2 separate regions of the Homo sapiens genome follow, and region 2 is linked to region 1. The links come from fine-mapping of genetic effects on gene expression. Tissue or cell type: whole blood. Region 1 holds a variant in brackets; the other region holds the start of a gene. All regions are shown on one strand. Distances are from middle to middle.

What was found. PIP is the estimated chance that this variant, and not a neighbour inherited with it, causes the effect.
Region 2: AAK1 starts here. The variant in region 1 is fine-mapped to the expression of AAK1 in whole blood (TOPMed, PIP above 0.99).

The regions. Positions count from the first base shown.
Region 1 is chr2:69,696,103-69,704,530 of GRCh38, forward strand. It overlaps a transcript of ANXA4 not described here. Among named protein-coding and RNA genes, the nearest start is that of ANXA4, 42 kb to the right of the region's middle. The variant G/T (reference allele first, on the strand shown) is at 5,174.
Region 2 is chr2:69,641,113-69,648,069 of GRCh38, forward strand. It overlaps AAK1 (AP2 associated kinase 1), which reads right to left and starts at 2,627. Exons shown (of 22, transcript NM_014911.5): 1 at 2,463-2,627; 2 at 1,766-2,162. The coding sequence starts at 1,928. It also overlaps a transcript of ANXA4 not described here. RefSeq lists a silencer at 2,376-2,705 and enhancers at 2,786-3,055, 3,811-4,413.

The sequences.
Region 1 (8,428 bases):
TTTCTCTGTATTGTGAGATGCTGTTTGATAGCATTTTGCCCACAGGAGAACTCCTTTCAAAATTGGATTCCATCCTCTCAAACCCTTAGTTGATGCTTTATCAACTAAGTTTATGGAACATTCTCAATCGTTTCTTGTCATTTCAACACTGCTCACAGCACCTTCACCAGAAGCAGCTTCCATCTCAAGAAATCACTTTCTTTGCTCATCCACAGAAAGCAATTTCTCATCTGTTCAAGTTTAATCATGAGATTGCAGCAATTCAGTCACATCTCCAGGTACCACTTCTAATTCCAGTTCTCTTGCTATTTTCACCACATCTGCAGTGACTTGCTCCATTGAAGTCTCAGACCCCACAGTCATCCACGAGAGTTAAAATCAGCTTCCTCCAAACTCTGTTGATGTTGATAGTTTGCCCTTCTCTCATGAATCATGAGTATTTATAATAACATCTAAAATGGTGAATCCTTTCCAGAAGGTTTTCAATTTACTTTGCCCAGATCCATCAGAGGAATCACTATCTATGGCAGCTACAGCCTTACAAATGTATTTCTTAAATAACAAGACTTGAAAGTCAAAAATCACTCCTTGATCCATGGGCTACAGAATGGATGTTGTGTTAGCAGGCATGAAAACAACATTCAGCTCCTTGTACATCTCCATCAGAGTTCTTGGGTGACTAGGTGCATTGTCAAGAAGCAGTAATATATTAAAAAGGAATCTTTTTTATTTTTTGAGTAGTAAGTCTCAACAGCAGGCTTAAATTATTCAGTAAACCATGCTATAAACAGATGTGCTGTCATCCAGGCTTTGTTGCTCCATTTATACAGCACTGGCAGAGTAGATTTAGCATAATACTTAAGGGTCCTAGGATTTCCAGAATGGTAAATGAGCACCATGTTCAACTTAAAGTCACCAGCTGCATTAGTCCCTAACAAGAGAGTCGCCTGTCCTTTGAAGCTAGGCATTGACTTCTCTCTAGCTACGAAAGTCCTAGATGGCATCTTCTTCTAGTAGAAGGCTGTTTCATCTCCATCGAAAATCTATTGTTCAGTGTAGCCACCTTCATCTATGATCTTAGCTAGATCTTCTGGATAACTTGCTGCAGCTTCTCCATCAGCACTTGCCTCTTCACCTTGCACTTTTATGTTATAGAGATGGCTTCTTGCCTTAAATCTCATGAAGCAACCTCTGCTAGCCTCAGACTTTTGTTCTGCAGCTTCCTTACGTCTCCCAGCCTTCGCAGGATTGAAAAGAGTTTAGTGCCTTGTTCTAGGCTAGGCTTTGGATGAAGGGAATGTTGTTGCTGGTTTGATCTTCTATCCAGCTCACTGAAACTTTCTCCGTATCAATGCTGTTTCGCTTTCTTATCATACTTGTGTTCACTGGAGTAGCACTTTTAATTTCCTTCAAGAATTTTTCCTTTGCATTCACAACTTGGCTATCTGTTTGGCACAAGAAGCCTAGCTTTTGGCCTGTCTCAGCTTTTGACACACCTTGCTTACTAAGCTTAATCATTTCTAGCTTCGGATTCAAAAATGAGAGATGCACATGATTCTTCCTTTCACTTGAACACTGAGAGGCCATCGTAGGGTTGTTAATTGGCCTAATGTCAATATTGTTGTGTCTGAGCAGTGGAGCAGTCAGTATATAACATTTATTAATTAAGCTTGCTATTCTGTATGGGCACAGTTTATGGTGCCCTAAACATTAACAATGGTAACATCAAAGATACCTGGGGCCAGGTGTGGTGGCTCAGGGACTGGGCAAAGTGGTTCATTCCTATAACCTGAGCACTTTGAAAGGCTGAGATGGGAGGATCTCTTAAGCCCAGGAGTTTGAGGCTAGCCTGGGCAACACAGTGAGACCCCATCTCAAAAAAAAAAAAAAAAAAAGAATACTATAGATTGAGTGGTTTAAAAACAACAGAAATTTATTTCTCACAGATCTGGAGGCCGAGAAGTCCAGGATCAAGGCACTGGCAGATTCAGAGTCTGATGTGGCCTGCTTTCTGGTTCATAGTTGTTATCACCTTGCTCTGTCCTCACATGACTGAAGGAGCAAGGAAGCTCTTCTGAGTCTCTCTCATACGAGCACTAATCTCATTCATGAGGGTTCTGCTCATTCATGAATTTCCTCCCAAAGGTTCCGCCTCCTAATACCATCACCTTGAGGATTGGGATTTTAACCTATGAATTTTGCGGGACACAAACATTCAGTCTATAGCAGATGGAAGATGAAGCCCAGCTTTCTAGGAAGCCCCCACCCGCAGAAATTTATGGAGCTAAAAAACTGCCCTTCAACTCCCTCCATTTCCTTGGCTGGCCTCTTCCCCCGACATCTCCCTGTTGTTTCTCCACAGGGAGCTTTTATTCATTGAGAAGGCCAGAACAGAGTGGGGACAGCCATGAGGTGCAGATAGTGGGAGCCTAGGGCGGCAGAGAAGGATGACCAGAGGGCCTGGGGGCAGGAGTGTCACCTATGGAAGGAATGGATCCTGGGGACAAGCTGCGTTGTCGGCTCTGACTAGGTGGGGCGGGGCAGGACTGTGCGATGGGCAAGTGTGAACTGTTACTGTCTCCATTATGCAGATGAAGGAACTGAGACTCGATCATGAGGGGGATTCAATTCTGGTCCTTGTCACTCTGAGGCTTGTGTCCTTTCTGCGCTACCAAGCTTTGTCTCTGCTTCTCAAGATGGTGATACAACTACTAATTCATAAAGCTCTGCAAGAGGGTGGTGGTTTTGAGTTGTAATTTCAATGAAGAGGGAGAAGAAGTAGAAAGAAACTAGGTTTATTTTTATGCTTTGGAATATTGATTGAAAGAATCAAAAGGATATAAGAGGATAAGGCAGGAAAAGTGGAACAAGAGCTAAACAACAAAGCCTGGAAAATAGACTATACTAATATCTTAAAAAGCTGATGGATTGAAGGAAAGATTCGGGTGAGGGGGGACAACTGAAGATATGAATCATGGGTAAAGAGGAGGATGTGATGGTCTTTGCCAAGCACCAGCACTGGCAGTGGGAGTGTGTGGGGTGGGGTCTAGCGCTCATGTTCATGACATAGAGGAGGACCTGGGCCTAGAGCCACTCAGTAAACTGGTGGCAGAGCCAGGGTAAACTTTGGTCTCCTGGCCCCACCTTCCAGGGCTCTTTTCTCTATTTTGTGCACTCAGAGAAGGGAGTTAAAAGATCAAAGATGTGGAAAGCACATGTGAAAAGTTAGAGGACACCCACATAGTAAGAAACTTAGGGCCAGGTGTGGTGGCTCATGTCTGTAATCCCAGCACTTTGGAGACTGAGGTGGGAGGATCACTTGAGCCCAGGAGTTCAAGACCAGCCCTGGCTACATAGTGAGACCTCATTCTATGAGAAAATGAGAAATAAATAAGCCAGGCGTGGTGGTGTGAACCCGTAGTCTCAGCTACTCAGGAGACTGAGGAGGGAGGATTCCTTGAGCCCAGGCTGCAGTGAGCTATGATCATGCCACTGTGTTCCAGCCTAGATGACAGTGAGACCCTGTCCCAAAAAACAAAACAAAACAAAACAAAAAACAAGAAACAAACAACAACAGAAAAAAAACAAATTTAGGCTTACCACTTGAGGTGGACTTGATACTCCTAAAACCTGAGGGGTAATAAAAAGATGCAGGTTGAGGTGCCAGGAACAAAGAATCCAAGACTGCAGCTTTGAGGCTTTCAAGGGAAGAGGGTCCATCATGACCAAGAAAAAATTTTCAGCACATGCTGTGCAGGTACCAGATGCAAGGAGTACTATAAAAAGTCTGAAGATGGCGACCTCCAGGGAATTTAGTCGCCCCAGCAGGAAGGCAGCCATTCCAAAGACGTCCCAATGCAGTGTATAATAGCCACAGGCAGTTAAGTTAGTCAGGAAAGTGAGCACCCAGAGAGAATGGAAGGAGAGAGGGAAAAACTGAAGAAATGTGTAGAAAGACAAAAATAAGACTTAACATTACGATTTTAGACAAAGCAGCATGAGGAAATGTAAATTTTTTTAAAGAAAGTGATTAGATAAAACATCCAAATGGAAACACATCTTGTAAACCGACGAAGCTCACAGACTGAATACAAAACATCACATTTTTATTTTAAACTTAAAAAATTAAAAATGTCGGATGTGGTGAAGCATGCTTATAGTCCCAGCTGCCCAGGAGGCTGAGGCGGGAGGATCTCTTGAGCCCAGGAGTTGGAGGCTACAGTGAGCTATGGCACCACTGCACTCCAGCTTGGGTGACACATCAAGGCTGTCTCTAAATAAATAAATACAAATAATTACATTCAAATAAAGTAAAAAGTCCAAGCACTACAAAAAGGTTTAAAAAGTCTTACTATCACTGCCACCATCCGTACTCTTCTCACTATTAACAATGTATTCATGACTGCAGAAAAGTATCTTACAATTATATAGAAATGACTCATAATTTATCACATACATACACAACACACACTTTTAGAAATGCGTACACATGGGTCGTACAGTACACATTCTGTGGCATGCTATTGCCTTGATTGCATAGTCATATATCTCAGAGCTCAAACCACCTTTTCAAAATCTCTACGGAGTAGCGTGCTATATGGTATTACATAATTATTTAGTGAATTCACCATTGTTGGGCATTTAAGCTGTTTGAAGATTTTGCTGTTACAGCTATAGAAATGAACATACTTGGCATATTTTTTTGTGTGTAACCTAAGGTAAATGTTTGGCAGTGGAATCACTTGGTCAAGGGGTATGTATGTATTTCTTTCTTTCTTTTCTGATTTTGAGACAGAGTCCCACTCTGTCACCCAGGCTGGAGTGCAGTGGTGTGATCTCAGCTCACTACAACCTCCGCCTCCCAGGTTCAAGAAATTCTCCTGCCTCAGCCTCCTGAGTAGCTGGGATTACAGGCACCCGCCACCACATCTGGCTAATTTTTTTGTATTTTTAGTGGAGACGGGGTTTCACCATGTTGGCCAGGCTGGTCTCGAACTCCTGACCTCAAGTGATCTGCCCAACTCAGCCTCCCAAATTGTGGGGATTACAGGAGTGAGCCACTGTGCCTGGCTTAATTTTTTTTTTAACTGTGGCAAAAGACACCTAAAAATTACTATCTTAATCATTTTTTCAGTGTACAGGTGAGTGGTTTTAAGTACATTCATATTGTTGT[G/T]CAACCCTCACCACCAGCCATCTCCAGAACTCTTTTCCTCATCTCGGACTGAAACTCTATACCCATTCAACATGAACTCCCCATTCTCTCCACTGCCCTCCGTGTCCCTCCCGCTAGCAAACACCATTCTATTTTCTATCTGTATGATTTTGACTACTCTGGCTACCTTGTAAAAGCGGAATCATTTGTCTTTTTGTGACTGGCTTATTTCACTTAGCGTAACGTCCTCAAGGTTCATTCATGTTACAGCATGTATCAGAAATTCCTTCCTTTTAAGGCTGAATAGTATTATATTCACTGTATGGAGGTATGTATTTTAAATTTGCAGACAGATATGCTGAAATTGTCCTTCTAAAAGGTGATACCTTCATTCCCACCACAGCAAGTAGGTCCAGCCACATTTCCCCCACCCTCACCAATCCTGCTTACTATCCAGCCTCTTCATGCTGCCAGTTTACTCCATGGAAGAGGAATCTGGTTATTGTTTTCCTTTGCATGCATGAGTAAGGCTGGTCACCGTTTCACAGATTTATTGGCGACTTTTTTTTTTATTGTTGCATCTGTTGATATCTTTACCCATTGTTTTCTCTTGGGCTTTCTTTTTCTTAGTAATTTGTATGCGTTCTTAATAAATTAAGAAATTAGCCCTTTTAATATCTTATGTTGCAAATACCTGTTCCCAGCTTATTTATCTTTTTACTTTGTACACAGATCTTCTTGCTGTTTACTTTTTATTTTATTTATATATATTTTTGAGACAGGGTATCACTCTGTCACCCAGGCTGGAATGCAGTGGCGCGATCTCAGCTCACTACAACCTCCACCTCCTGGGTTCAAGCAATTCTCCTGCCTCAGCCTCCTGAGCAGCTGTGATTACAGGTGTGCGCCACCACCCATGGCTCATTTTTTTGTGTTTTTAGTAGAGATAGGTTTTGCCATGTTGGCCAGGCTGGTGTTGAACTCCTGACCTCAAATGATCCGCCTGCCTCAGCCTCCCAAACTGCTGGGATTACAGGTGTGAGCCACTGCACCTGGCCTATTTTTTACTTTTTATTATGAAAAAATCCAAAATATATAAATCAAATATATTTAAAAAGTAGAGAAAAGAGTACTCTGTGTACCCATTACCAAGTTTAATCTCCACCACACCTCAAATTATTTTGAGAGCCAGGCATGGTGGCTCACACTTGTAATCCCAGCACTTGGGAGGCGGAGGTGGGTGGGTCACTTGAAGCCAGGAGTTGGAGACCAGCCTGGGCAATATAGTGAGACCTCATCTCTAAAAAAAATTAACTGAGTGTGGTGGTGTATACCTGTGGTCTCAGCTACTCGGGAGGCTGAGGAGGGAGAATCACTTGAGCCCAAGAGTTGGAGGTTAAGTGAGCTATGATTGTACCACTGTACTCCAGCCTGGGTGACAGAGTGAGACCCTGTCTCTTAATAAAAAATTATTTTGAAGCAGATCCCAGACATCATCATTTCATCCACAGGTGTTTTCAACGTGTATCTCTAAAGACAAAATTTTTTTAAAACGTAACTATAAAACTATAATCATATGTATGTGGTTTTAAAATATAAAACTGTTCATTTCTAAGCAAACATCAGTCATTTTCTATATGATTTCTGGGTTTTGTGCCATGTTTGCAAAGTCTTCATAACAGTATTATAAATAAATTCGCCCATGTTTTCTTCTAGCATTTATTTTACTCAAAAACCATTCATTAAATTCAAAATTATTGTCCAGCGCATGCAAAGTTCTTAAGTTCTGGAAAGACACAGAGTCACAGGGTAATCAGAGCCAAGAGAGTTAATTTCCCTGCCCCCTTTCTCACCTGTAAAACATCTGCTGCCATGAAACCCCTTTTCAGACCCTGTCCTCCTTTTCCCTCTGTAGACAACCTTCCTGACCTCATGTGTGGGTCAGAACCCCCTATGGACTCTTTCGCCTCTGGCTTCCTTTTTTTTTTTCTTTTTAATAAGAGTGTTATTAAAATATAATTCACATATAAAATGTACCCTTTTAAAGTATGCAATTCAGTGATCTCAGTATATTCACAGTTGTGCAATCTTTGCCATTATCTAATTTTACATTTTTTTCATCACCCCCAAAAGAAACCTTCCACCCATTAAGTGATCACTTCCCATTTTCATGTCCCCACGAGTCCCCGGCAACCACTAATCTACTTTGTCTCTATGGATTCCCAAGACATTTCATAAACATAGAATCACAATATGTGGCCTTTTGTGTCTGACTTCTTTATTGCTAGTACTTTTAGAGTCTCATTTTAACATTTTACATCATACTCTTTCTGGAATTTACTTTGATGAAAGAAGAGGAGTTATACAGCTTGACTCTTTTTTTCTCCCAGATAGTCCTGCCATAGTCTCAACACTGTTTTCTGAATAATTCATCTTTCCTCTCATGGATTAGAAATGTCACCACTATCATCTACTAAATTCTCATTTTAGTTTATTTCTGGATTTCCTATTTTATTCCATTATCTATCTAAATCTCTGCTAGAATCAAACTGGGTTATTTTTTTCACTTATTTACTTATTTTAGTGATGGAGTCTTACTACGTTGCTCAGGCTGGATTCAAGCCATCCTCCTACCTCAGCCTCCCAGGTAGCTAGGACTACAGGTGCGTGCCACCCCCCCGCAGCTTAAATGTTTTAATTCTTGTAACTTCAAAATGTATTTAAATATTTAATCTAACTGCCTCCCCTCCCCTAATATCTTTCTGTTGAGATTTTCTTCTTGGCTATTCTTTCTTGTTTATTTCTACAGATGACCCCAATATTATCTTGTAAAATGTTGAAAAGAAATTTTTAAATATTTTTATTGGGATCACATTGAATTGATAGATTAAATACAGCAAGAAATAATACCCCTTAATAGAGATTTTATATTTTCTTTATATGGTCCTGCCTATTTCTAGTTAAGTTTATTTTCAGATAAATTGATCATAGTGTTCCTATTTAAATGGGATCTTTTCTTTCATTATATTTTCTAACGAGCCATTTTGTACAGTAATTATACAAAAAGTAACTAACTACTTTACTAAAATTCTCTTATAATTTCTGTTAGCTTTTCTGGCAAAACAAACCACCCAATACTTAGCGTCTTAAAATAAGAAACATTATTTCTCAACTCTGTGGGTCAACTGGCAGTTTTTCTGGTCTGGGCCAACTCGGTTTATTTCTGCAGAAAACTGGCACTTTAATTGGCCTCGATAGACGAGAGTGGCTTCACTC
Region 2 (6,957 bases), 56 kb before region 1:
AGACCAATTTTGCCTTTTCTTTTCCCTATCACTTCTCTCACACTTGGAGAACATGCACCGCTTAGGGCAGCATCATCCGTGATGAGACAACATCCTAGCTGAACAAAACGCTCGTGGGCTATAAGGTCAGCAGAGGCCATTCAGAGGGGAGGAAAGTGTTCTGTGGCCCTTCGTTTCTCCTGATTTCTCTCTGACACACTCTCCTTTTCACTGTTTCTCCACCCCACTGCAGTTAAGGGCTTTGGCACAGGGATGAAAGAGACAGATCAGACTCAAGGGTGCGGATCTGGCAGCGGGCACAGAAGCATCTCCTAGCCTGCACCAAAGTCCACGGGAAAGATCCAAGGGGACAGTGACTCTGGCCCCAGATAAAGCGCAGCTAGAACAGTACTGAGATTGGAAGAGCAATAATTTCACATGGACATTAACTGTCAGAGATCTTTTTTAAAAATCATGTTTTTAAAGTACAGACTTCAACTCTATTCCCAGAAAACTGGGCCCTGCTGAATCCAGTGCTTACACAAGCTGAGAGCCAAACACAGCTTCTTCCTCTTCCAAACCCACCCACCAGCCCGCAACATCCACCATGGTAAGCATTTCCCAGGCCCAGGTCAGGACCCTTGCTTCAACTTTAGCTTGCAAAAGGCCCCTTTTTAAAGAGGCCTCTTAGCTTTCTCTCTTCCCTTGCTAATAAAACTGTTCCCTACCATCACCATGTTGCAGTAAGAGAGACCTCTCCCTTCTTCCAACCCCTCTCGGTCTATAACACAACCTACAGCAGGTTGGCCCCATCCAATCAGTCTGAATTGCTTCATGCCAAGGAAATTGCTGCTTTTATTAAAAATAAAAGCACACTAGGCAGGCGAAGGGCTGTGAAAAGTATGAGTCTGGCATAATTATGAAGGTCGAGGTTAAGGTTACCAAAAGAGACATGCAAAGATTTCCCGAAAGCCTGGGGGAATCAAGATGTATATCTACGTGAGTATAGACACACAGATGAAACACAGAGGGAATTTATGCAGCAGATCTAAATAACATCCTCTCTGATAGCGAAAAAACAAAATCAGAGCCACTCTCAAGTAATTTTTCTTTTGATTAAAAAAACAAAAAACAAAACCTAAAGCGAGAAGGAAGAGGGGCCTACTAGACTGAGTTCAAAATAACCACATTTGTTTTATGTAATTTCTGTTATCTTTGCTATAACCTGGGGACCTGATTACAGTTGGGTCAGGAAACAAATCTACTAGTGAAATCCACCAAGAGCCTTGGCCCTTGGAAAAACACGTTCACGTTCTCCGAAAATCCTCTCTTCCTTCCAATGCCTGCTCATGGAAGTGGGAAAGTTGGGTAGGAGAAGGAGAAACCCCTCTCTTCTTAAAAGTCCCCCCACCCTTCAGCCTTCACATCAAGATTTTAAGTTTTAGGAGGATGACAAGCCCATCACCCTGCCTTTGGCATAAAGCTTTACACTTTCACACATACGTTTTCTTGTGTGATCCTCAAAATTTGGCTTCTCAATATTAAAAAAATAAAAATAAAAGGCCACTAACGTAAACAATTTCGGCAACCTCCCCACACCCCCATAAGCCCAGTCACTTTCAAATCTCAATTTTAAATCTCTCAAGGACAATGACTCACAGGGCAAGTGAAGGGGGAAGGGAGGGTCAACTGGTCAAAGCCCATTCATACATGCAACAACTAGAAACCACAGTATTGCCGCATCAGCACAAGATTTTAATTTACGGCGCATTGAGCCCCACCGTACCTTCCGCCAACACCTCGTCCACTGTGACCTGCTGTCGCCCGATGCCGAAGACTCTTCCGATGTAGCCACTGCCCAGGCCCGAGGTGCTGCCCCCTCCTCCGCTGGAGCCGGAGCCCAGGCCAGAGCCGCCCTGCTCTCGCCGGGAGTCGAAAAACTTCTTCATCTTGCGAATAGGGAGCAGCAAAGCAAAATACCGATGGTTTCTAGATTTTTTTTTTTTTTTTTTTTTTTTAAGAAAAGAGATCCAAGGATTTCTTCTCAGATTTCACCTCGGAGAGGAGCCACCCGAATCCGGCCGTGGGGGTGGGGGCTGAGGGAGGATGCCTATAGGAATATGCGTGTCAATCGCGCAGCGGGTCCCCTCCTCCTCCAGAAAGCGATTCGTGTAAGTTTAAACCTGTGATGACAGAGGAAGAAAGAGAGGATGAATCAGTAACACGCTTAAAAATTCAACCGCTGAGTCCTAGGGGGAGCAAAAGCCATCATCCTGGGGAAACGCTTCATGTATTTTCCCGGCGAGAAAAACCGTGGGGCTGAAAACGCGACCCCGGCCCCAGAACCCGGGACCCCCGAGCCGGGAGCTCGGAGAAAGGAGGGATCCGAGCTGCTCCGGCAGCGCCGACCCTCCCGGGCACTGCCTCCCGCTCCTCCCGGGTCTCCCCGCCGCCCCTCGAGGCGGCATCCTGGCAGCACCCACTTGAGACGGCTCGGCGGCCGGCGCCCTGCTACCAGCCCCGCGACATTGTCACGGCCGCCGGGCCGGCCTGCGACGCAGAGAAGAGGCGGCGCTGCAGCGAGAGCCGGGGCCGCGCTCGGCTCCCGCCCGCCCGCCAGCTGATCCCGGGAGCGCCGGGCGGAGACTGACCCGCCGCCCCTCCCCCGCGCGCGCTCCCGCCCGGCTCCATCCACCCAACCAGGAAGTGAACCGCCGCCGGAAGTGCCCCTCGGGGCGGCGCGGCGAGGGACCGGGGCCTCTCCTGCAACCGCCGTTCTGTCGCCACGGATGGGAAGGAGTCGACCGCGAGAAGAGGACTGGGGGAAGAGGGTCTCAGTGCAGACAGAGTTCTGGAAAAGACTGTTGATATCACCCGAGCCGCAGGGCAAGCTGGGAAAGGTAGCTCGGCACAGTCCGGCTGCTGGACTACAAATCCCAGCATACTCCTGGAGGAGAGGGCGAGGCGGCAGCCGTGTGGCCTCCACGGCCTCGAAGGAGATTTGTGGGGTGGCGCGTATGTGGGGACTCGGCAATTTAAACACATCCCGTGAAGAAACTGCCAACAACTAAGTTCCCCCCCCCCCCCCCCCGCTGTATGTTCCACCCTTCTGGAGCCATCTTATTTGCGGCCTGGCCTCCTGGCACAAGGGATTCTGGAGGTTGTGGTTTCCGAACGGATCGAGACTGACACCTGAAGGACGCGGCTTAACCGCTTAGCCCCTAGCGGGTCCTGTGGGTTTCCCGACGTCTCCTGGGCTGAAATGGAAGCGAGAAGTGATCGGGAACATTGTGCTGGCAGTTGGATCCGGCTGCACCGAGCGCCAGCCTTGAAATAAGTAAAACCGATGCCCTTCCGCCCCTAACCTCAAAAGCTGCTTTTGCGTCTCGATGTTATTGAGAGCCGGCTCTGCGGTCAGCTCTGAGCTAGGCGCTGTGAGAACGCTCAGTAAGACAGTGTCTCGTCTGGAAATGTACAGGCGAGATTCAAACCGAGAAACTGCCAAAGGTTGTGTGCAGGGCAGATCCTAGGATACCGGAGACCCAGCCCGTTGGCTTGACCTCAAAACTCGGGGGCTTTTCGGCCCATGCTGTCCCTTAATTCCTCCTCCTTTGCTGACGCTGTGGGTGCGCATCAAAGCCTAAACTTCACTAGCTCCCTTGCACACAAGAACACTAACCCTAACCTGACCAGTTATTTATTTTTCACTTCAAGATTCTTCCATTGATACTTACGTTTCCCTGATACCGTCCAAGTGCTGAGGGCGGGGATGGACTGTGTGATTTGCATCTGCCAAATGCAGAAAATTTGGAAGGTCAGTTGGTACACTTTTCCGACCTAGATTTCCTGATGGATGATGCTGAAGAGTGGCAAGTTGCTGCCAAAAACAAACAAAAAAACCTACCATGATTTATTAATATTATTTTTCTAACCCCTGAATATGGGTTATTGTTCATCTCTGCCCGCTTTCCCCACTCCCTAGTGCTTGTCTCAGAATTTTTTTTTCAGCGGGTATTTGAGTAGAGAAGGGTGTCCCAGGGAAAAAAATGGTTCTTGCTTTCTCTAATCTGAATATTGAGCTGAGCTGTGACTGGGTTAACAGTAGCGTTTGTTGTTGCTGCTGCTGCAGCTTGTTTCAAGTAGTGCCATTGTAATTAAACTCCGTGAAGAGATAGCATCTTTTCTTCCGGAGAGAGTCAGTGTTGTCACCTCAGTTCACGAATTCATGTAGCCACCTCCAGGGTGAAATGCAGCCCCTATTCCCTCAAACTAAGCCCACGAAGGCATGTTCTCTGCACTTTCCTTAAAAGGCCAGATTTTTGTCTGAGGAAGTTTGAAGCAGATCTTAAAATAGATGAGAAAGCTCATTTGGAATTAGACTCATTGACCCCCATTTCTCTCAGCACTTATTTGTCTTGACTGACTTTTTTAAACAAGCTGTGCTAGGTCCTAAAATCAATCTGATGCTATCTCAGTTTTTACCTTTCTAGACTTCTCTGGTACCAGACTAGTCCAGGCTTACACAAATCTCAAGTCTTACTTCAGTGATACAAAAACTCCCAATATGCTTAAGGTAGCTAACATGCATTTATTTAACACCCACGTGAATGCTCTGATCAGAAGCTGAGGGAAGAGGTTTAAAAAACAAAAAACATGACTAGATTCCTTGCCCTCCATTCCCTCACAGACTAATAGCAATTATAATGACAAATCCACAGTTTTTCATGCTTTACATATATTAAGTATATAATGCTCACAACCACCCTATGAAGTAAAGTACCATTATTATACTCATTTTATAGGTGGGTAAGTAAAGCAAAGAGATTAGTGACTTGCCCAAAGTCACACAGTAAATAGCAAAGCCAGGATTCAAACCCAAACATTTTAGTTTCAAAGCCCAGTTCTTACCTGGCTATACTAAACTGTCTACTTAGAGAGAGCAAACATTAACTGATTAAAAGACTCGTGAATAGTTAGAAACCCACGCACAAGCAGCATAGGACCAGGAGACAGGAAACCTCTTGCCACTTCATAGCTGGGATCCTAGACCACTTGTGTCACTGGGCTTATTATCTCAGCTATAAAACCAGAGCTCTTACAACTCTTAGTAATTTTTTAGTTCCTGAGTACAAAATAATGAACAGATCAGCCACTATAATCTCAAAACTATCACACTTTCTGTATAATTTGTCCCATGCTGCTTTGCATTCCTGTTCAACTTTTAATGTATATTGCTGTCTCAACCAAACACCTCAAAGCCAGAGAACCATCTTCTACTTATCTCCTTGGGCATCCAGTATAATAGTTTACATAGAGTGTGTTCTTAGCAGTACTTAAAGTAAATAATTTACTTTAAATGTGACACAAAACAGAGCTATCTGATTAAGGTGGAAAGATTGATTTGAAGTATCCTAGATGAATTTTGAACTAGGTGTGGAAGATGCTATGGGTAAATAGTCAAAGGGAGTGGGAAAAGAAAGTGCCATTTACTATTGTTACAATAGTGATCATATGACCGATGGAACAGACTCTTTGAGGCAATAAGATGCCAAATTATAAACAAGACCTAAGGCTGTGTCAGGCAAGGGTTAAGTCACACATCCCTACACTTGAAGAGTAAACCATCTTCTAACTGCCACAAGGTTTTTCTTTTTCTCTGGTAGCTAAATAGACACTGGCCTGGAGATAAGCAATATTGAATCAATTGTAGCTCACTGACCACTAGATGCTGACTAACTGTATCCCCCCAACCCCTGTTCCACAAACCATAACTATTTCTTTGATTGGACAAGAGACTGATTTCAGTAACATCCTAGTAAGAGACTACCAACCACAGACTGGTTCTGGCTGGTTTTCAGAGGCTGTGCACTGAGTGTCTTCATGTCCTTTGCTTCACCTAATTGTAATGCATTTAAATGTTAAATCTCCACCCCAAAGAGAACATAGGACATATGTAACATGCATGTTTGCTCACTATGCATGCATGTGCTGCCCCCCGCTTTGTGAATAATCAAAGCTCCTGTAACTTAAGTGTGTATTCTTAGCCAACTCATTTGGCATAAATTTGTGTTCCACTTTTTCCTCCCTCTAAATACCTGCTTTCAGTCTCTGCCAGAGTCTACACTTCCCAGCCTGTCAGGATCACCAGCCTGCAGGCTGCAACCCTTTATAAAAAGTAAAGCTCCCCTCTCCAAATTTATAAACCTTGGGATTCTTCAGTTAACACTATGTATCTTCCATATGCCAGTTATGGAATTTAAAAAATATATATATATTGTTTTATTGTTTTATTTTTATTTTATTTATTTATTTATTTATTTATTTATTTATTTTTTGAGACAGAGTCTCACTCTGTAGCTCAAGTTGTAGTGCAGTGGCGTGATCTCGTCTCACTGCAACCTCTGCCTCCCAGGCTCCAGCGATTCTTGTGCCTCAGCCTCCCGAGTAGCGGGGACTACAGGTGTGTGCCACCATGCCTGGCTAATTTTTTGTATTTTAGTAGAGACAGGGTTTCACCATGTTGCCCAGGGTGGTCTTGAACTCCTGAGCTCAGGCCATCCACCCACCTTGGCCTCCCAAAATGCTGGGATTACAGGCATGAGCCACCACGCCCAGCCACTTTTTAAAAAAAATAATTATATAAAAAATAGAGATGGGGTCTTGCTTTGTTGCCCAGGCTGACCTCAAACTCCTGGACTCAGGTGATCCTCCCACCTCAGCCTCCCAAAGTGCTGAGATTACAGATGTGAGCCACCGTGCCTGACTGATATTATTTTATTTAATCTTCATGGTTGCCTACAAAGTAGACAGTATTATCTATTTTATCAAAGAAAATACTGTTACACTATTATTCCCAATTTTATAGATGAACAATGAAGATTTTGTTAGTAGCAGATGAACATGTATGGTTTGTTAAGTTTGAAGGAAATGATTTGACCTGTGGTACACCTAAATCATGTTACCATAAACCCAGTGTGC